6 linked regions of the Homo sapiens genome follow. The protein of the gene in region 3 interacts with the protein of the main gene of each other region in a pairwise test. Each region holds a gene or a part of one and is shown on either strand. Other genes may lie near its edges. The genes, in order: FAM83G, FAM83F, CSNK1A1, MALT1, FAM83B and FAM83E.

The links.
Region 1: the proteins of CSNK1A1 (region 3) and FAM83G interact in binary tests that used the Homo sapiens proteins (3 or more experiments, as listed by UniProt).
Region 2: the proteins of CSNK1A1 (region 3) and FAM83F interact in binary tests that used the Homo sapiens proteins (3 or more experiments, as listed by UniProt).
Region 4: the proteins of CSNK1A1 (region 3) and MALT1 interact in binary tests that used the Homo sapiens proteins (3 or more experiments, as listed by UniProt).
Region 5: the proteins of CSNK1A1 (region 3) and FAM83B interact in binary tests that used the Homo sapiens proteins (3 or more experiments, as listed by UniProt).
Region 6: the proteins of CSNK1A1 (region 3) and FAM83E interact in binary tests that used the Homo sapiens proteins (3 or more experiments, as listed by UniProt).

The regions. Positions count from the first base shown.
Region 1 is NC_000017.11:18,991,265-18,994,764, forward strand, and holds part of FAM83G (protein FAM83G), read right to left. Parts: intron 1-3,500. UniProt on the Homo sapiens protein: Substrate for type I BMP receptor kinase involved in regulation of some target genes of the BMP signaling pathway. Also regulates the expression of several non-BMP target genes, suggesting a role in other signaling pathways.
Region 2 is NC_000022.11:39,993,742-39,997,753, reverse strand, and holds the start of FAM83F (protein FAM83F), read right to left. Parts: upstream 2,801-4,012; 5' UTR 2,712-2,800; coding exon 2,223-2,711; intron 1-2,222. Other genes in the region: uncharacterized protein LOC124905155, read right to left, coding at 2,986-3,406.
Region 3 is NC_000005.10:149,509,940-149,513,439, forward strand, and holds part of CSNK1A1 (casein kinase I isoform alpha), read right to left. Parts: intron 3,271-3,500; coding exon 3,131-3,270; intron 1,934-3,130; coding exon 1,855-1,933; intron 15-1,854; coding exon 1-14.
Region 4 is NC_000018.10:58,733,965-58,737,464, reverse strand, and holds part of MALT1 (mucosa-associated lymphoid tissue lymphoma translocation protein 1), read right to left. Parts: exon of another isoform or gene 3,485-3,500; intron 3,159-3,484; coding exon 3,084-3,158; exon of another isoform or gene 3,078-3,083; intron 2,264-3,077; coding exon 2,136-2,263; intron 1-2,135. UniProt on the Homo sapiens protein: Protease that enhances BCL10-induced activation: acts via formation of CBM complexes that channel adaptive and innate immune signaling downstream of CARD domain-containing proteins (CARD9, CARD11 and CARD14) to activate NF-kappa-B and MAP kinase p38 pathways which stimulate expression of genes encoding pro-inflammatory cytokines and chemokines.
Region 5 is NC_000006.12:54,863,771-54,867,270, forward strand, and holds part of FAM83B (protein FAM83B), read left to right. Parts: intron 1-2,226; exon of another isoform or gene 2,227-3,500. UniProt on the Homo sapiens protein: Probable proto-oncogene that functions in the epidermal growth factor receptor/EGFR signaling pathway. Activates both the EGFR itself and downstream RAS/MAPK and PI3K/AKT/TOR signaling cascades.
Region 6 is NC_000019.10:48,612,277-48,616,328, forward strand, and holds the start of FAM83E (protein FAM83E), read right to left. Parts: upstream 2,801-4,052; 5' UTR 2,661-2,800; intron 2,564-2,660; 5' UTR 2,432-2,563; intron 2,352-2,431; 5' UTR 1,097-2,351; coding exon 632-1,096; intron 1-631. Other genes in the region: RPL18 (large ribosomal subunit protein eL18), read right to left, coding at 3,096-3,171, 3,601-3,670, 3,803-3,926. UniProt on the Homo sapiens protein: May play a role in MAPK signaling.

The sequences.
Region 1 (3,500 bases), on a different chromosome or scaffold from region 3:
AAGACCAACTGGCTTGGTCTGGGAATGACTGCAGGAATCAGGGCATCTGGGACCACAGCCCCTCCTGGGCCCTTGGCTTCCCCATCTGTCAAATGGGGGTGTGGGCCTGGCTTGCCCCTGTGGTTCTATCCAGTTCACACATTGTCAGAGCTGGCCCAAGTCAAGAAAAGTACCAGATGCTTCACGTAGCCCCAAGCCCACACGTCCTCTCAGAGGTCCTGGGCAGGGCAAGGGCTGTGGAAATGAGAGGGGAGGCTGACTCCAAAGACCAGCTCTACCTGCTGTTATGTCAGGGGCCACACTGGGCAGGAGGCGGGTGGCCTGGGTCCCATCACTGAGCTTGTTCCGCTCCTGAGGCAGGAACCAGCCATGTCCATGTGAGCAGCTGGCACAGGGGCAGGCATGGCAGGCGGGCACGTGTGTGTCCTGCACCCCAGGTACCGTTGTCAAAGCCGACGGGCAGCTCCCAGCCCAGCAGCCTGGAATCTGCGCAGGCCACACAGCCCAGCTCCCAAGTGAAGGAGGGAGCCCAGTGGTCCCTGTGCATCTTACTGATGGACAGGCCTCTGCTGGGCGGCCTTGAGGCCTCGAAGATGCAGCTGCAGAACCCAGGAGGCCCAATGCCCAAGACAACCATCTGACTCCTGCCAGGGTGTGGGAGGATGGCCCAAGATGGCAGGGTGTGGGAGGATGGCCATGCCTGGGGGGCAGAGGCAGGCAGGCTGCACTGGAGGGAAACACCAGCAGGGATGTGGGCACTCCTCCAGTGAGCCAACAGCGAGCCTGCGCCTGCCCCAGCCCAGGCCTCTCCCTGGGGGCTCCTGGTGCCCAAACACCTCCGGCATGTCTGTCCAGGGGTGTCCATATGCACAAGCCCTCCAGCGCCCCGCCCGATGAGCACCTCCTCCCATGCTGTACCCTCCCTGCCCAGTGGATCCGCCGGCCTTCTCCACCCTGCCTTCTGCCTGTGTCTCGAATCCCCCACCTCCCTCTGTGTCCTTGGGACAGGGGGACATCCGCCTCCATGTGAGAGATGCAGAAACTGCAGCTGGGAGAGGGGAGGGCACTGGTCCAAGGTGGTGCTGCATGGGGATCCCCAGTGCCCTGCCAGGAGCACCTCCAACACCTGGGCAGTGACCGGAGCAGCTTGAGCTGGGATGCAGGGGTGACAGCATCTCACACAAAGGAGAACCCCACCTGTGGCCACTGCCCCCCAGCAGACACGGCCTGAAGCCACGTAACACTGGCTGCTGGCGTTGGGGGTGGGACAGGGCTTTAGGTCACAGAGGCAGGGAGCACAGGCGTGGGCCTCCTCAATCTCCCTCAGCCCCAGCCAGAGCCCCCTGAGCAAGGGTGGAGCGGGCGGAGTCGGTCCAGCACCGGCGCCCAAGCTCTAGGCTGGGCTTTGGGTGAGCCACACCTGCGTTCCAGGTCTCAGTTTCTTCACCTGTCAAAGGAGAAGGTGGACAAGATGTCCAAGGCCCTTCGTCTCTGATGTCCCTGCCGAGGGACCCCAACTCCTGTTCCCTGCCTGGTGCCGGGCAGGGCCTGTCTGGGCGGCTAACACATCTCATTGCGCCCACAGGTCTGGGAGAGGAAGTGCTGGTGGCCGCCCTCTCCCTGCCTCCCCACACAGCTCCTGCCTCACAGGTGCCAACAACAGCCTGTGGCTCCTGACACCCACAACAGCTGTTTCCTAGCCTTCCTGTGACCACAGAACCACTCTTGAAGCAGAAGTGCCCTCGCAGGACGAGTAGGTAGAACAGGTCTCCACAGAGGTGCCTGGGGAGGAGGGGTGGGGCGAGACGGGCTGGCCTGGTTCCGAGCATGGTGGGAAACCACGGGTGCACAGGCCCAGCCTCTGCAGCAGCACCTCTTCAGGGGGGCCCTAAACCAACGCATCCTGACCCCTCTCCCCGACGCTTCCTGATCCCTCTCCCCGACGCGTCCTGCCTCAAGCCACTGTGTCTCCTACATGTTGTTCTCCTTGCCACCTGCCCATTTTGCATCTGCTCGGACAACTACCTTTTTTCAAATCCCAACTCCAGTGCAGCCCCAGCCTCCCCTGTCGTCACTCTGGCCTGTCTGGGTTGAGCGTGTATCACTTGCGTATTTCTTCTCAGGCACAGCAATGGAGTCTCCCAAGGACTGAGTCGCAAGACTCGGGTAAGAGGGGACAGTTTCCAACCTGCACGTGACAAGCCTTACACTCACCTCACCCTCCTAGGCCTCAGAGATCCCTAGAGGCGGCTCAGAGAGAGGAGAGAGGCGGCCATATTCTCTCTCCTCACTATGCTCCAGGCAGGTGGAGGACAGATACCCTCAAGCCTGCCCCAGAACCTGGAGCCCTGAAGCAGCCACAGACACTGCACACACTGCAGACAAGTCCCTAGGCCTCTCTGGGCCTCACTTTCCCACCTGAGAAGTGCCGGGGGTGGACAGAGTCTCTCATCTTGGGGTTCGTTATTCTCCAGGTCTGATGGCAGATGCCCAGACAGTGGCAGTGTGGGCTCTGCACCCGCTGGCTCCGATCTCAGCTCCTCCTGGGAAGCTGCATGACCTTGGGCAAGTACCTTCATTTCCTCATGGGGATAATAACAATCCCCACCCACAAGGTTGTTGGAAATTAAAATGAATTCATGCAGGTGAAGCCCTAGCAGGGGATCCACAAACGGCAGCTGCACGGACCCTCCTCGTCCTCCCACCAACCCAAGTCCCATCCCACCAGACCCACAGCTCCCTCTGGGGTGAACAGGCCAGCAGCGTCTCACTACCCTCCGGGCCAGCTGGAAGGCTGTAAGTGACGCATCAGGGCTGCTCACAGGAATGCTGCAGACTGTCTTAAAGGTTGAGGCAGTGGCCATCATGACCTTGGATTCAACTTCCACTTACAGCCATGATGGAATAACAGAGACGGAATTCACCCCCTGCCTTAGCAATAAAAAACCCGGATAAAATCTATGAAGCCATGGACAACAGGCTTCAATCAGCACAGCGATTCCTGAGAGAAGAGGAACAAACCAGCTGAGCCCTAGGATCACCCCACTATTTCCAGGCTGCAGCACAGGGAGGGGCGCCCCCGTGGAGTCTTGTGGTCTCCCTGAGTTGAGGAGACAGGGTTCACTCTGAGTGTAGCAGCTAGGATTTGCAGGACGGAGTGCCGCAGGGGAGAGAGCTGCACAGAGTGAACTCCAGAGACCTGCAGAGGGTCCCCTGGAGTCTTCAGCTGATAGCCGAGCAGCACACGAACGTGAGGAAACTACTGAGGCTGAGCAGGGAACCACTGGAAAGGGGAGGCTGAGCAGAGAACCACCGGAAAGGGGTGGCTGGAACAATTGCTGGTGCTCACGCAGGACCGGGAATAGTGTATGTGCCCCCAGCCAGAACAGAAACCCCTCCTAACACACAGGTCCTGCAGGGGGTGTCCTCAGAAGGATACTGCCTCAGCAGTTGACAAATAAGTCCTAGACCAGGCATAAGCAAACTTCCTGAAGAACCAG
Region 2 (4,012 bases), on a different chromosome or scaffold from region 3:
CACACAGTACTCACCTCCCCCCACGACAGCTCTTTTTACCTGCCAATCAAACCTCCTTGCTTTTTCGAAGCAAAAAGCTCTCTTACTGAAACAGTGCCCATTCCAGTTGACCCTCTCCCTTTCCAATTCTGCAACTCACCTCCCTCAGGAAGCCTTCCCAGATTAGGCACATTCAGCCTTAAAAACTCTTTTCTTTCCAGCAGAGCCCTAGCATTTGTTAAGCTCTTGGAGGGCAAAGCCACACCGTGTATCTTCTTCATGGCTAGGTAGTGCCTGGCACACAGTCAGCCCTCAGGAAATCACTGGTTAAACCTGTACTTATTGGATGGGTTCACAATTGTTAAAAGTTTCTGTTGTTAAATATTTAAAGAGTCAAAAATACCTCACTATGCAGGAAAGAGTCCTGTCATCCCACATGGGACTAGATGCCTCAGTGGCCAGAAGCCCAGTCTCCCCCTTCTAGTAACAGGGGTACACCACCTGCACTCCAGGTTGTGACCAGGCTAGCTTCATTCAAACCCCTTGCTTAATCGGACTGCACCATTATTTCAGACACTGGGGCAGTGTAGCACAGTGGTTAAGAGCAAGGGCTTTGGAGTTTGGGTCCTGGCTCAGCCACTTACTAGCTATGGAAACTCTGGCAAGAAACTTCTGAATCCTGATGTCTTTTTCTCCAAAAATAAGGAAAACACATATTCACCCGGTTGTTGTGAAAAGCTAATGAGAAAATGCAGGTGAGTCATTAACACAGTGGATGGCACATATTAAATGCTAAATAAATAGAGGCTTTGTTAGTATGACATCATGAGACTTGACCCCTAACCCCAGCTGCAGCCTGTATTGCCGCCTACATCCTTTTTCCCTCTTCTGTGTCCAATCTTGCCTTTTTCTTCTGCAGAACACAATATACAAAGAAAACTCAGTCAGACAGGGAGGAATTATAGAGAGGGAGGGTAGAAATGTGCGCAGTGGAAAGTTAACCCTTCCTTCTGGTAGCCAATGTAGCCAACTATCTAGATCACCCCAACTACCTAAATCACCCCTTCCAGGAAGATGAGCCTGAGCACTGGTCTTTCTAGCTCTATTTTCCCTCCTCAGGCCTCTTCAGCCTCGAGGGGAACCAGGACTCCAACCTCACTCACTGAGTGGAATTTGAGTGGTGAACCCAAGCCACTCCTGTTGTATTATTCTGAATTGGGCACCAAAAGCTGCTGCTGTTTCTTAACAAATCTCAGTGTAGGGCAGCCAGAGTTAGCAAATAAAAGTACAAAACGTTCCCATTCAATTTGAATTTCAGATACACAACGAAGAATTTTTCAGTATCAGTACGTCTCATGTCATGTTTGGGATAAGCTGATACTAAAAAGTTATGTGTTGTTTATTGAAAGTTCAAATGTAGTGGGGCATCCTACATTTGATCTGGAAGCTGCCCAGGACTCCCACCCAAAGGCATAAAGATTAAAGTCTTCCACCTGTTCCACAGTGGACTGGCCTCACCAGCCACCCTGGAAACAGCCCCTCCTTCCAACTCTCAAGCAGGACACATATGCTAAGTAGGAGCCCTTTCCTGAGCTGCCGAGTCAGGTGACCTGCTGTGCCAAGGCGCCCAGCACAGGGCCAGGCACACAGTAGGTCCTCAATATACCCCGTCCCCCATTCATTCCAGGCAGCTGGGGCCTAGTACCCGGCCCAGGAGAGGCTGTGACTGTGAGGGCGCCAGCTCAGCTTTGACTATGGGAGGAGAGGGGTGGTCCAAGGAGCAGCATGGCAGAGGTGGGACCGGGAAGGTCACCGCCACCCACTCCCTGAAGTTGTTTTGACGATCACATGAGAAAGCGGCTCGGGATATGTTCTGGGCAGCACGTAGGTTATCATCAAGACCTTTGAGTGGTGCATTTTAACCACAGGGCCTCGGCCCCCAGTCTTCCCTGGGGAGGAAGGCTGGACAGGGAAGTTTCAGAAGTACAGAGCAGAGCCAGTGCCTCTGAACGCTGGAATACCGACGGCTGACATCTGTCCAGCACCTTGTAATTTGCCAAACACGTTCCCAGCCATTCGCTCTACAGGCCTCACTGCAGCCCCAGGAAGTAGGGGCGGGTTGGGGCCCATTTTCCAGAGGGTGCTCAGGGCGGCCTGCCCCGGGCCCTGCCTGGGAGGTGGGGCCCGGTCCAGGGGACTGGGGCCGAGGTCCCAGCGGTGTGGGGGCGAAGGCGGGGGCCTACCTTCTGGGCCTGTTGGATCATCTGCCTGACCACCTGCTTGAGGTGCGGCGCCTTCTCGTCCTTGGGCGGGTGGGTGAAGAGCGTGACCCGGCTCACGCCGCGGTAGAAACCAGTGTCCGTCCAGCCCAGGTCCAGAGGAGGCACCTCGGTGTCGGAACGGTCGGGCCAGTAGGCCAGGGACTCGCCGGACTCAGCCGGCGCCGGCGCGGGGGCCTTGGCCTTGGCCTTGCTCTTGCCCCGGGCGTTGGCGGCGGGGACGGCGTCCTCGTAGGGGCTCCAGGCGGCCCGCAGGGCCTGGCGCTCCGGGCTGGAGAGGAAGTCCCGCAGCTGCTCCTCCTTGAGCCGCTCGCGGTAGGCCTGCTCGCCGCCGCCCAGCAGCGCCTCCAGCGCGGCCCGCCGCCGCTCGCAGTAGTAGAAGGCGGCCTGCGCCTCGGTCACCTTCTCGTTCACGTGCGCCTCGTCCAGGCAGTTCAGCTGGGACTCGGCCATGGCGCCCCGGCCCCGGCCCCGGCCCTGGCCCCGGCCCCGCCGCGGTCCGAGGTCCCACAGCCGCACCTGGAGCCGCCGAGGGGCGGGGCGCCTCACCTGGCCGCGAGCTCTGCCCCGGCCCGTCCCGCCCCGCCCCGCCGTCGGGGAGCGGCCAATCCGCGCGGGCGTGGCCGTCGGGCGGGGAGGGGCCGCCGCCTCCGCCGGGCTCGCCGGGACCTCCGGGCGGCCTGGCGGACGCGGTCGGGCCCGGGCCTGCAGGGCCCACCAGCCGGGGCTAGAGTCCCTGAGGGGACGCCCCCAGGGGGCGGGGCCGTCGCAGACCCACGTGCGGGCTCCGGCCCCGACTCCTCCGCGGGGTAAAGGTTCGCTGTCCGGCCCTCGCTGCCATCCGCCCCCGCCGGCCGCGTCGCGGGTACGAGTTCATTTTCCGCGCACGTGGAGTCCGGAGCACGTGTTCTGGCCCAGTGGCCTCTGGGGCCGCCGAGCTGACCCCTTCCCCGTCGAGGGTCCGGTGTTGGTGGGGGGGCCTGCTGCAGGACGGGATTGTGACGGCTGAGGAGCGGGCAGGGGGTGTGCAAAAGCGAAATGCTAATGAGAGCTCGAGCTCCCCACCCTTGCGTCCCAGTTCTGAGATCAGAGCCCTTCTGGGCTGGGAGTCCAACACCTTCACTGTAAAACTTTCTTTTAAAAAATAGCTATCCAAACAGAAATGATGTAAAGAGCAGCAGTGGAATTCCCCCCGCCCCCACCTTAATTTGAAGTAGGGTGTGTGGTGTCTCTCCGTGTGTGTTTGGGCAAGATAGGCTGCCAGAGACATGATTACTATATTAGTGATTCAAAATGTATGTTTGAGCTCAAGGAAGGAAACCGCACGTGCGTGCACACCACACACACGCACACACACAGCAGCGGTGGCAGCAGCTCTGCTGTTTCCCATCGGATTAAATACAATCGTCTTAGTCATTAACATATTATGTTGTTCATGCACTGCTCTACAATTTGATTCTCCACATTCAAAATATTTTCAGATCATAACAACTAAAGGTTCACATTTCTCTCACTTTATAGCGCAGCATCTCAGAGCTGGAAGGAGCTTTTCAAGCTCCTCCAACCCCCTCATTTTACAGTTGAAGAAATTGAGGCCTAGCAACGTGTGCGTTGCCCAGGTCTCCCGTGAAAGAGGCAGAGCACGGGGACTGCAAGGTTTTCTGTCTTGGAGGTCTTTCGCTGACATCACGGCCGCCTTTACCCTTTCTCCTTTTCTTGTGAAACGACAGGTTATTGGGGACCTGGTTTTCACC
Region 3 (3,500 bases):
TTCTTTGTTGCAGCCTGTGGAAAAGAATAAAATAAAAAAGATATACTCAGTGCTACTGAGAAGAACCATGGTAGTTTAACGCACTAGACATATAAACATATACCTGTGAGATTCAAGAGAAATTTTAACCCAGAATTTAAAAAATCAAAGTATAATACATCTAAAAAAAATTTTTCCCAAACTGTTAACTTCTGATGTAAGTTTCTTCTCTAAGAATTTAATTTTAGCTATAGGGAAAGGGTGAGTCTAATAGGAATATATGGATATTAGATTTAAGTAAAAATGGCTGGGGCCAAAATTGAAAAGCATTTTCTTTCTTTCTATATATTTTTTTAAGGAGATGGGGTCTCACTATGTTGCCCAGGCTGGAGTGCAGTAGCCATTCACAGGCTCAGCAGTAATTCCCTGTGGCCTCCAACTCCTGGCCTCAAGCAATCCTCCTGATTCAGCCTATCAAGTAGCTGGGACTACAGGTGTGCATCATCATACCCAGCTGAAAAGCATTTTCTTTCCTTTTTCCTTTTCTTTGTTTTTTTGTTTGTTTGTTTGTTTTTTTGAGACAAGGTCTCCCTCGGTTGCCCAGGCTGGAGTGCAGTGGCTCGATTATAGCTCGCTGTAGCCTCGAACTCCTGGGCTCAAAGCAATCCTCCCGGCTCAGCCTCCTGAGTAATTGGGGCTACAGGCATGTGACACTACACCCTGCTATTTTTTTTTTTTAAAGTAGAGGTGAGGTCTTGCCATACTGACCAGGCTGGTCTTGAACTCCTGGGCTCAAGTGATCCGCCTGGCTGGGCCTCCCAAAGTGTTGAAGATTATAGGCATGAGCCACCATGCTCAGCCTGAAAAGCATTTTCTTAACCCATGTTCAACACAAGGGCAAAGGCATCAGATTAATACAAAAAAATTTGTTCATCAATTAGTGACATTAATAAATGGAGTTAACTGTATAAGTCACAATATTTTTCTAAACTAAAAATACTCATATTAGATAAAGCTACCCACCCAAGGACTGAGCACTACAACTAGCTCACAGCCACTCAATAAATACAGGTATTCCTTCAAAGAACTGGTAAGGTACCAAAATAGCCATTAAAATTTAGGACACACCAACAGTGGTGACTCACACCTGTAATCCCAGTTCTTTGGGATGCTGAAGCAGGAGAATCACTTGAGCCCAAGAGTTTGAGACCAGTCTGGGCAACACAGTGAGGCACTGTCTCTACAAAAAATAATTTAAAAATTAGCTGGGCATGGTGGCATGTTCCTGTAGTCCCAGCTACAGGTAGGAGGCTGAGATAGGAGGACTGCTTGAGCCCAGGAGGTTCAGGCTGCAGTGAGCCAGGCATTCCGGCTTGGGCAACAGAGCAAGACCATTCCCCATGCCCCCACCCCCACCCAAAATTAGGATACGGTGATTTATCATTAACATACACTCACAAAAGTAACAGTAAACTCCTAGCTAATAGAAACAAAATGTTAGGACATGTATTGCTGGATAAACAGGTCTTGCTGTACATAAAAACATACATTTTCAACATAATGGCAACACATCAAAATGAGAAAGTCTCCACCTTTCTTAGTCCATGCCCACTTCCATCTAGATAGAGCTAGTGGCTACCAGTGGGTACCAGCTTACTGTCTCTTAGAGGACACTGTTCTTCAGCTGAACTAAGTTCTTACTAAAATGATCTGGTTTCATTTTCCCAGATAAAAGGTAAAAAGTAAATTAAGGTTAATTCTTTATATCTCAGAAAAATCTCAGACTTAGAAGGGACCTTAAATCTTATCTTCTCCAATATATATTTTTATTCTAAAAAAGAGAGAGAAAAATCTGATAATGTGAGTCTGGTTTACCTTTAGCCCTTGCCATGGCAGGCTGGTTCTATTAAAATACATCAAAACATATCCTAATGATTCCATGTCATCTCGGCGACTAGAAAAGAGAACGTAATTTTATAAACTGGAACTATTATTATGAAAAAACATATGAAAGAAAGTCAAGTACCCAGAAGAAATGTTCCCAAATGAGGAGGGAACACTATTTGGTGTCTTACGCAAGAAGCTACTTATTTAAGGTGATTTTAAAAAGTTCATGTGTTACCTACCTCTAAACAAAACTTTTTCCATGGAATCCAAAATCTGACAAACAACTGTCTTACAATTTAATTTTAAAAGAACAGAAACGATTTGGCTAAACAACCCTCTAAATGAGCTTAATGAACCAAGCAGGATGACATTTCTATGTTTTGCAGAAACTCATTAAAAAAAAACTTCAGAAGTACTGAAAAGGAGTTACAACTTAAAACTAATTGAACATCTATATGAATGTATTCATGCATACATATCTATATACACATACATACAAATATATATTTAGATATATATATATTTAAGGATAGGTAATGCCTTGGCGTACAGAAAAAGTGACATTACAGTTTAACCTAGATCATTCAGATATTCATGGATATTTCTTAAGCCTGAAATTCTTGGTATGAGGTTCTTTAACCTGGAGGCATATCATTGTTTTTTCTACTTATTACTTCTATGCTAGTTTTAAGGAGCAAAAAGTGACTGTAAAAGATGAAAGGAACTCGAAACTCTAGAACTCATGTGAAGAAATAGGAAGAGAGCAGAGACTGTTACTTTTTTTACTTTAAACTAGATCCTATTAATTTATATATTTGAGTGAAGTATAACAGGAGATGGTCCATCAACCCACTTTTGGTTTATTAGGACACTGATAACATTTTCCTTTTAAAAATAAATAATGCATTCTTCCCAAACTCAGCGTGAATTACTAAAGTATAAAAAGCCCCAAATAGCTCTAAAAATATATGTACTATCTTCAGCTGCAAAAAGAAACGTCAACATTGCACTTATGCTTCTAACTTTCTATCACGCAGTATTTTCCCCCCAAGAGACAACCTTCAACAACAACAAAAAATCCAGAAGACCTCATTTAACGGTCTTCTCTACACTGGTTAAAGCAGCAGGTAAAATGATTAATAAGCATCCTTCAAATCCTCAGCCAAGAAACATCCTTAGACATTGTAAGAAACTAAAATATTTCAAAAACCCATTGATGGCTTCTGCTATGGCTATGATAAGCACATTCCATTTTCGAACTTACCTCTGCTCAATACCAAGATGTGCATTGATGCTAGCATATCGGGCAGTGCCAGTGAGGTTTTTATCTTCTCTGTATGGTATGTGTTGCCTTGTCCTGTTGTCTCTGTACTTTTTGGCCAAACCAAAATCAATAAGGAATAACTTTAAAAGAGAAATACAGAAACATTAGGTTTCCAACCTTGTTCAATTAAACTGCGTCTTATTCATTAAATGGTATCTATTCTATGCATTCAAATATATCAAAATAAAGTATCCTAAGTATTAATAGAACAGATAATGAACAGACTTAACACCCCCCCATAAGCTTTTACTAGTCTTCATCAATAAATCAAGTTAAAAAAAAAAAGTCTAGTAGTTTATCCTTGTCGTTT
Region 4 (3,500 bases), on a different chromosome or scaffold from region 3:
CTGTCACACATGCTGGAGAGCAGTGGTGTGGTCATACTTACTACAGTCTCAAACTGCCAGGCTCGAGCAATCCTCCCACCTAAGTCTCGCGAGTAGCTGGCACTGCAGGTGCACACCATAATGCCTGGCTAATTTTTTAAATTTTTATAGAGATGGGGGGTCTGACAATGTTGCCTAGGTTGGTCTCAAACTTCTGTGTTCAAGTGATTCTCCTGCCTCAGCCTCCCCAAATGCTGGGATTACAGGCATGAGCCACTGTACCTGGCCCCAAATAATTTTTTTTTTAAATTGAGATGGGGTCTTGCTGTGTTGCCCAGACTGGTCTTGAATTCCTGGGCTCAAGCAATCCTCCTACCTCAGCCTCCCAAAGTGCTGGGATTACAGGTGTGAGCCACCATGCCCAGCCATGGAATGAGTTTCAATTAAGTAATCTGGAAGATCCAAAGGGAGAAACAGCAAAGTTTTGTTTCAAAATTGGATGACTTGTGAAAAATTTCATACAACTACTTTTGCTCTTTACTACTAAGACAGGGGTCAGACACAAAGCATCCAAAACTCAAAATAAGGGCTAGATTTAACTGTATTATTTATCATGATACTATTAGGCCTTTACTTATTTTGTACAATGAGTGGGCCGTTACCCACGAAGGGCACAATGTGCACGGCACTGAGCTGAGTGTGCTCCATGTACACTACAGGGTCTTCCTGCCTGGGCAATTCTGGTTAAGCAGACATGGTAGGACTGAAAAAGATCAGCGAAAAGCAAAACTGTCTAAGATGTTTATAAGAAGTTCAAATATCCTCACAGCACATATCGGGATGCCATTCATTGCTATGACAATTTGGTAAATATCATATGTGAGTGAGCATGGTGCTTTTTATTAAGTTTTAAAATAGTTAAAATGGACTTAAAAACGAAATTGAAATAAAACACTGTAGAGTTTCTGGAGCACCTTACTGGATCTCAGTTTGAATATAACTGACATAATCCAAAGGTTTTCTTTCTTTCTTTTTTTTTTTTTAAAGCAGCAGAGCCTTTCCTTCAAATGTAAGCTTCAGAAGAAGCCTAATGTAGAAAACAAATAAAAGTGGAACTTCTCTGGATGAAGCGGGAGGGTGGCAGGAAGTCCAAAGCCCTGGCTGGTTATGTTAAATGGAAAAGTGGCTAAGTCAAGTGATCTAAAATAGCTACACAGATAAAAACATGAAAATAAATATGGCTGACAGTTGGTCAAACACCTTATACCCAAACTGCCATCACTGGAACATCCATGAAACTCCATTTTCTAGTGGTGCTAGTTTGTAAAATAATTTCTTCTTTTTTATTTTTATTTTTTATTTTGAAGACAGGGTCTCGCTATGTTGCCTAGGCTGGTCTTGAACTCTTGGCCTTAAGTGATCCTCCTGCCTCAGCTTCCCAAAGTGCTGGGATTACAGGCTTGAGCCACCATACCTGGCCAAGTTACCTTCTTTTTGCTATGGCTTATAAAATGTTTTTTCAAAAAACACAGTGCAATCTACTGAAATAATAGGTACTTGTTCAGCATCTGACATATGCACAGCATTATACCAGCAGGCAGGGAGAACAGATAGAAATGGAAGATGTGGCATTAGACCCCCTAGGATCACATCCTTAAATCAGGATTTAAAAACTACTAAGTTCATCAGGGAAAAAAATGAACTCAGCTTTTCCCAGCAGTGTCTAAAAATTTCTGTAAAGTTTTCTCTCTCCCATCCTGGGAGAGACTGCTCACTGGACAATTCCCCACCACCCCTCCATGCCACCCACCCACCCTCAAATAGGGAGATTTGCCAGTACCAAGGCACTGGGCATAGAAGCAAAGTAGAGCTCTGAGAATTCAACTTTATTAATGACTGTGCCGAGGCTTAGCCTTGTAGTCTGAGTAATGCTGCACAGATGGTGGAGAGCTAGGTCAAAAGGGAAGGAAAGATGACATTAAATAGCAGAAGTGTTGCTGAACGTTATATTAATATAAAAATTGTTTTATAAAGTAGGTACTAATTCCAAACCCACATAATAAGAATAAAACAATCACCAGAGAGGGAACCCTGAATAGGTGTGTCTCCCCTGCTCTCCTTTTTCTGAGTACTTTTCTCTTTATTTTTTATTTTACCTTCTGCAACTTCATCCAGTAACACAGTGATTTTCTTATCTTCTAATAATCTGTCTTTTAAAAATTTCATAAAGATTCCATTTGCCAATCCAGAATGCTGGATTTCAAAAGCTTCTGCTCCTTGACACCTTAAAAATAGAAAAAGAAGTTAAGCCAGGCACAGAAAGGCAAATACTGTATGTTCTCACTTATATGTGGATGCTAATAAAAATGAACTCAGAGAAGCACCCAGCAGAATGGTGGTTACCAGAGGCTGGGGGGGGGTGGGGACAGCGTGGGGACTGTTAGTCACAGGGTACAATGTTTCAGTTAGGAAAAAAGATAAGTATTTGAGGTGATATGTGAATTATCTTGATTCAATCATTCCACATTGAATACGTACATCATAGCATATCTTTGTATCCCATAAATACATACAATTATAACTTGTCAATATCCAATAAAAATAATTTTTTAAAAAGAAAATGTTAGAAAAGCAAACACTTGCCACATGGGACTTCTGTATACACCAATAAGCTTCATTTTCTCTTCTGCCTCTCACATGACATTGATAATTAAAGAGTTAATCTTTAAGCAGGAATTACATGCCCAATTTGGGCTTAATAATTAAGATACCATGATATGGAATGCTAAAGTCGATCATTTAAAATTTTCTACGCAGAATATCAAGGAGGTAAATTTATGCCTACATGTCTATAGGTATTTTCTAGGCCTCTAATCTATAATCAAAAAACCCTCAGGGGCCAGGCACAGTGGCACATGCCTGTAATCCCAGCGACTCAGAAGGCTGAGGCAGGAGGATCGCTTGAGCCCAGGAGCAGTGAGCTATGATGGCGCCTCTGCACTCCAGCCTGGGTGACAGAGTTAAGACCCCTGCTCCTAAAAAGCAAAAACAAAAAGACATCAAACAATAAAGGAAACTTCAACGTAAACATCAAATGTTCTTACGTGGCATATCCAAACACAATATTGGCGGTGACTTTTAGTGCATCCAAGATTGGAATGGTATCATCGTAGTCATTTCTATTTAAGGGAGGCGGAGGAGGGCAGATAGAAATATGAAAAGTTAAAGAGCATTCTTAAAAGGGTATAAATAATGAGAAAATACAACAGTTTTTTAGAATACATAATTTAAAATTATAGATTCAAAATTTTTCATCTAGGTAGCTACATATCTACCCAAAATAACCCACTAACTCCTTGTTAGCTTTAAAACTAGAGTTGCATTTGAACTCTGGCATTGGATTTTGATTGGTAAATGCTGAGCAAGCAAAAAAATAGTAAATCTAGAGGAACAGTCATTGGTTCTACTCCTTAGAAAGGCAATGGCAGACAAATGGGATCCAAACCTCCAAACATCTGCTT
Region 5 (3,500 bases), on a different chromosome or scaffold from region 3:
GCCACTTTGTCACTATTTTACATATCTGTTTTGGCATCTAACATGTATGTTTTTTGTTGATTTCTGCAGATTATATTAATGTGTCTCTATTTATTCATCCAAATGATTACTGATCAGGGCCAGAACAAGAATACGTCACTTTGGTATGGCACAAGACACAACTTTATCAGGATAGCCTTGTAGTTTAGATGTTGGTAAAATAATAATTTAATTTTATTTGCATTTTTAAGCCATGTATAATCCTTTGGAATTTGAGCATTCAGTATAAGCTCTCTCTGTAAATGGTTTATTTTTTCTTAATGAATTTATTTACAGGAATTATTCAATAAATGCTTCCAAATGACATTGAATAATTGTGTTTTAATGTCATTAACATGTATTGGGTATTTTTTTCCCCCAATATCTAAAATTCCTGTAGTTTATATCTAAGAAGGCAAATAGCAGCCAGTACAAACAAACCCTGGAATCATATTGGTATGAAAGTGATATTGCTATCCCCTCCCTCCAGTTAAAGTAAATTGAGGAAATTAAAGAATGAGTAGGTATTGAGCAAATGGGATTCCCATTTGAGATTTAGAAAATGAATTGGAAGTATGTTTATTGTTTTTATGAGTTTGATAAGATGGGTGATTCTACTGGTAATCCATCTGTGGAGATGTTTGCACCCAACACCCTGTGACTGAGTGCGTCATGTATTTATACTTTCTGTGACCTGCTGAATATCATGCCGTGCAGATGACTGTAATCTGTGCTATTGGGCCATGTTGTTATAAGTATTATTATGAAGCCAGCTTAGAATTTTTTAATGAGTTTGGATGTCAACATGAGATATCAAATTGCACTTGACAGCTTGAATATTATAGTCAATTTTTAATTTAATAGAAACTTCTTTCATGTTTTAATTGTTATCTTAAATTTCTGGTAATCAAATGAGAAGACAAACAATCTTGACAGCTGAAGAAAGAAAAGATATATGATTTTCAACTGTTGTGGACCATGGGTAATGATTTTATATGAAAGAGATGTTCTGAAACAATCCTTTATGAAACATTTTCTTACATTATGTAGACAGACATTTTGATACATATCATAAAGTCAATTACCAAAAGAAATAACAAATTCAAGAATTTTTTCCCTCAATATATGAGAGTTTGCAAAGTATTTCTTAATAAAATTGCTTAACATTGAAGTTATATCAGATAACTAGTTTAACTATATCATTTAAGCTGCAAAAACCAATCATTTCTAAATGGTAAATTTACTTGGTAATTTAAGTTTATTTAAAAATTTTGAAGGTTTCAAAATAAAAGCATTTTTGTACGCATTTGTATCAGCTGCCTAGTGCAGCTGTAACGAAGTACCAAAAATATTGGCTTAAAACAGCTGAATATATTCTGTTATGCTTCTGAAGTCTAGATGTTTGGAATCAGAGTGTCAGCAGGGCCATGCTCTCTTTGAAGTGCTCTAGGGGAGAATCTGTTCCATGCATTTCTCTTATCTCTGTTCTTGTAGGCAATTCTTGGCATTCCAGTCTCTGCCTCTGTAGTCACGTGCAGTTCTGCCTTTGTGTCTGTCTCTGTGTCCCCTCTCTCCTTATAGACACAAGTCATATAGTCATATTGGATTAGGATCAGCCATGGTCTAATATGACCTCATCTTAACTTGATTACATCTGCAAAGACCCTATTTCCATGTAAGGTCACATTCACCGGTAATGCAGGTTAGGACTTCGACATATCCTGTTGGAGGATGTAGTGCAACTCATAAAGCATTCAATACTTGGAGAGAAACAGCTTAAGAGAGAGACTGGAAAATGGACTGCAGTGATGTTAGCACCTGTGATATTTTTTATATTTGTTTCAGTCAAAATTCTGACTTTGGTTTATTGGCTTGCACATTAGGTAATTATAGCCTCGGACTTTTGATTTAAAAAAGCTGTAATTTCTCTTTGGAACATTTTCCCACTGACCTATTACATCAGAAGCCTATTCAATGAATTCTCTCAGGTCAGAAACTAGGAACAAACTGATACTAGGTTTGGTTGTTTTATACTGCAGATGATTAAATAGTTACAAATTGTATGATATTGCTAATGGTATGAAAAAACATCTCTTTTCAAATCTTAAAATCTCTTATCAAATTTATTACATATTTATAGTAATTATACTATAGCAGATTGTGAACATGTAAAATAGTCATAATAATAATAATAATAATAATAATAATAATAAGGTTGAAATGCATTACCTTATTTATTCCTTAAAATAACCCAAGAAGATAAAGACTGTTGTTATTCTCCTCTCTACATCTGCCCAAACTGAGGCTTGTGGACGTGTGTAACTTGTCCAAGAGCTTCATAGTAATTGATGAAGCAGAGTTTTAACCTGGCAATTTGACCCTACAGATGAACTCTTATCTTGTGTGCTATAGGTTTTTTTTTTTTCTATCTAAGTCTCATGACATTGCTCATCAGTAAGATTTTTTTCATTAAACTTTTTATTTTGAGATAATTGTGGTTTCACATATAGTTAAGGGCAAAAATCCAGAGAGATTCTTTGTATCCTTTACCCAGTTTTCCCCAGTGCTGCTGTCTTGCAAAACTATAATACTGTATCGTAACCAATATGCTGATATTGATACTGTCAAGATATAGAATATTTCTATAACTACAAAAATTCCTCTGATTGCCTTTTTATAGCCACATCTACCTCTCCGACTGTCATTTTAAGAGTGCAGCATCTAACCAAATGGAATTATTCAGCATGTAAACTTTGGAGATTGGTGTTTTTTCATTCAGCATAATTCTCTGGAGAGTCATCCAGGTTGTTGCATGTATTAGTAGGCCATTTATTTTACTGCCAAGTAGTATTCCACAGTATGGGTGTACCATAGTTTAATATTCACCTGTTGAAAGACGTTTGGGTTGTTTCCATTGTCAGGCTATTATGAATAGAGCTGCTATAAATATTTGTGTACAGGATAAGTTTCAACTTTTCTTGGATAAATCACCAAAGTGCAGTTGCTGTGTTGTATGTTAGTTGCATGTGTCATTTTATAAATGAAACTGCCAAACTGTTTTTCCAGAGCAGCCCATGAATTGAAAGCAATTTTTATGACTTATTTTATATCCTTTGTATTTATAGAATTTCAGTGGAATTTCTACTTGATACAAATGACCCTAAAGCTCAATATCAAATGCAATTTTTAATTTTTTTTGAGGCATGGATTTGTAAGGCCACTTTTTTTCTGGAATGAGTCATTTAACTGTTAGATAAGCCTAATGGTCTGCTCAGCTTACATGGCATAGTGATATCTTTTTTTTTTTCTCTACTCATTAACTCTACTGTGTATGATAAAAGAATATGCTTCCTGGGAGTTTTTAATAGTTATTAATAAAATAATTCCTTATTTTTTATATATATATTTAAAGGCACACCTAATTAATTTTGTCCTCAAATAAAGCCCTCCAAATGTTCAGGGATTGAACTGCTGAGAGTGCT
Region 6 (4,052 bases), on a different chromosome or scaffold from region 3:
GAAACCCCTGGCTTGGTGATGAGGGGATGGGGGAATGACTGAGACTGGGGGTGTCATAATTAGGTTCAAGGGGCATCGATACCTAAGGGCATCCAGGTCTTGGGGGAGGGTAGGGGCCCCCATTTCTTTCTTTTTTTTTTTTTATTGAGATGGAGTCTCGCTCTGTCGCCCAGGCTGAAGTGCAGTGGCTTGATCTTGGCTCACTGCAACCTCCGCCTCCCGGGTTCAAGCAATTCTGCTTCCTCAGCCTCCCGAGTAGCTGGGACTACAGGCGCCCACACCATGCCCGGCTAATTTTTGTATTTTTAGTACAGACGGGGTTTCACTATGTTGGCCAGGCTGGTCTCAAACTCCTGACCTCGTGATCCGTCCACCTCGGCCTCCCAAAGTGCTGGAATTACAGGCGTGAGCCACCGCGCCCGGCCGGGCCCCCCTTTCTGAGAGTAAGGATGAGGTCTGGGGTTGTAGGCACCTGAGTCCTGGGGCTGGAAGGTGTGCACTCCTGGGTCCCAGGGGTATAGGTCCTTTAGGGTAGGGGTGTGCGCTTGCAAGTCCCAGGAGGACAAGGGAGAGAATGCCTGGGTCCCCGTCCCAGTCTGGTGAATGGACACAGGGCCCCCGCGACACCCACCTTGTGGGCAGCCTGGATCTCCAGCCGCACCAGCTCCTTGAGGGGCGGCTGACCCTCTCCAGGAGGCTGGGTGTACAGCTGCGCCCGGGTGATGCCTTTCCACGCAGAGTCCACTGGCCAGCCCAGCCGCAGGACGGGCGCCGGCTGCTCCGACTGCCCAGGCCAGTAGCTCAGGCTGCCCGCGTCCACATCGGTGGTGGTGGCTCCCTCTGCCATCCCGCTGGGCTCCTGCTTGGCCACTGTCCAGTCTTCAGCTGCCGCTGCCAAGCCCTGAACCTCATCCGCACTGAGGAAGGGCCACAGCTCCTCGCGCTGCACGCAGGTCTGGAACGCCTCCGCGCCCTTGCTCAACAGAGCCTCCAGTGCCAGCCGCTGGCCCTCGGAATATAGAAAGCCGGGGCTGGCCCCGGGCACCCTGGGACCGGAGTCCACTCCTTCCAGCGCCGCCAGCTGGGAGGCCGCCATCGGGGTCACTCGGGTGGGAGGACTGACTGTGAGAGGCTGGGTCCCCGGGGGTCTGGCTGTCTCTGGGGACTGTGATCATCTGGGGGTTCTCCTGATAGGCAGACCCTACGTGGCCATCCGAGGCCTCCGGCGGGGCCCTGCAGATGTCCAAATGGCTCCCTGCAGCAGCCCCTGCCACACTGTTCTGACAATCACGCTGCCCAAATAAGCGACCATCCAATGTGTCAGGCCACTCAGATCCGCCACCTGCCTGCACCCAGTGGCACCATGCCTGGCTGGCCTTCCGTGACCTTCCTGCCAGCCGTCTCTGCTGGTCAGGTTGACCTCCTGACACCATCCCCAACTGTGTGACCCATCAGCTGGCCATCTCTGCTCAGCCACACGACAGCCTCCAACCCACCAGTCACACAGTGCCCAGTCAGACCCTTCAGCTGTCCTGAATTTGGTCAGGCTGACCACTTGATCATTTCCAGGCGGCAAGCTGCCTGCCTGTCTCTAATCACCCAAAGGTCCTTAAAGGCACGACAGGTTGCCTGCCTGCCCCCGGCCAAGAGCACGACGAACTGACCCTCTCCTTCCACTGTCTGGCAAACGCCAATGGCTTCCGACTGACAGTCACAGTATCTGCCTGTTGGAGCATCTGTCTCTGGCCAAATCTGACAGCCCCCACGAGTTTCTCCTGCTCATCAGCTCTCACCCGCAGACCAGCCAGGATGCCTCTCCACTGGGCCTGCTCGCTCAGCCTTAAAGGCCGAAGGCTTGGCAAACCCTTCCCTACCCTGTCAATGGGGGACCCTGCTCCCTGGACCCTCCTCACACTCCTTCCAGCTGCTGCAGTGGAGGGTGAAATGCGCTACAGGGGTCTCCATTACTATGGGACAGGTCTATGATCTTCACAGCCCATCTAGGTGTGAGTGCCACCTAACCAGCCACCCTCCTCAGGCTGGCTGCCCCTGCCTGGGGCCTGGCCCTGGGACCTGTTCCAGGCCGTCCTCTGATCTGCGGGGAGCCCTACCCAAGCTGCCCCCAGCCTGGTTTCTGCCTAAATGCTATCTCCTGCCAGCTACCCGGACGCTTCTTCCCGGACAGGGGCCAGTCTCTATCTCGCCCTGTCTCCCTCCCAAGCCTCAGTTATCCCCTTGAGGCTCCTGACCCAACCTCGGGGACCCTGGACCCTTGATCCCTGCAAACCAGAAGCCCTTCATTCCAATCCCACCAACCCAGGCCGCTGCTTCCTCCAGACCACAGCAGGGAGCTGCAAAGAGAAGAAAGGAGTCAAGGCAGGCCAGCCTCCCCGCCCCACCCTCACCCATCCCCCCCATCGCCGGGGCTCACCCACACCGGCTAGTGCCGGGCTCAATGGCCTCCCTTCCAGTGCCTGCTTTTTCCGAGAACGTAGGCTGTGGCTCCCCGGCTTCTACTTCTGCGGTGCTTCCCGGCTTCTGGCCTCACTCATCAGGCCTCGACCTGGAATCCAGGGAGCCCGGCCCCTTGTGTAAACACAGGAGGGCCCCCACAGGCCCCTGGAGGAGGTCCGGGGGTGCGGCTCACACGCTTTCTTTACCTGTGCTCTCCCAGGGGGTGAACGCCCCTCTAGACTCAGGCTTCCCGGTCCCCGGGGGGTTGAGATTGCCTCACCTGTTCCCAGGCAGTCTCTCCCTCCCCACAGCCCTGCCAGCCTGCACCCTGCACTTCCCGGTCCACGCCCCACCCGCCATCCCAGCACCAGGGAGGGGCACAGGATCCTTTAAGAGGGGCGGGCGTGGCTGACCCAAGGAAGCCGGTGTGGGAACACCTGCCACCTGGCTGTTGGGAAGGAGGCAGGGAGCTTCCGGGGCAGTGGGGGCAGGAAGAGGGCTGGTCTTCACTGGCATGACGTCCCTGTCCCCAAACCAAATGCATTCTCACCCGCAGGAACCAATTCTCCAACCCATCCCCCAATAACACACACAGAGCACTGTCAGCAAAAATCTTTTTAATAAGAGAGTAGGATCCAGGGTTAGTTTTTGTAGCCTCGGCTGGCCCGTCGGCCTCTGGCACGCTCGAACTTCCGGCCCTTGGAGCGGACGTAGGGTCTGTGGGGAGAGGAGGGAGTGAGAGGGGGGCCCTCTTAAAGGAGGCCATTGTGGAGTGGCACAGGAACACCACAAGCCTGTCACATTCAGCCCCAGGAGAGTCAATGCTGCTGGAAAAGCTTGGCAGAGTGGGAAGCCAAGGAGCCAGGAGGGGCTATGGAAGCACCTGCCCCACCACCTGGAGGGTCCCAGCCTGGGCTGGCAAAGGCCGGTGAACTGCATGCTCCCCAGGAGATGCCTGCTCAGGCCCTGGAAAACACAGCTCCAAGCAGTGTTGAAGGGAAAAGCAGGCAGGATGAGGCAGCTGAGAGTTCCAGAAGGCCTGGGGCTGGCTGGTACGAGGGATAGGAGAAGCAGCCCAAGTGTGGCCAGGCCTGGCCCTGCAGGCTGAGTCTGGGGAGAGGGCAGGGCTGGGGGCCTGATACTCACTTGGTGTGGCTGTGCGGGGTTCCTGGGGCCTTGCCGAAATGCCGGTACACCTCTCGGCCCTTGCGAGGACCTAGGGAAGGGGAAGGAGAACCGGGTGAGACAGGGATCTGGCGCCCAGCTTCTGGCCTCCCAGATCCAGGAGGGTGAAGGCTGCCAGTAGCCACACAGCTCAGTCCAAACCCGTCGACCACGTATCACTCACCGGAGAGCAGGACAGTGCCACAGCCCTTAGGGGAGTCCAGGGCCAGCTGGTCGAAAGTGAGGATCTTGCCCCCTGCCCTGAGGATGCGGCTGCGGGCCCGGCTGGTCACGCGCAGTGCACATACCTGGTGGAGAGGACAAGGCTGGCGGGTCAGACCCCTGCGTGGTCACCCAGGGGCTGCCAGGACTCACCCTCCACTGCCTTGGCGCAGCAGAGCCCTGGTAACCAACACTATCGTTTACTACCCGGA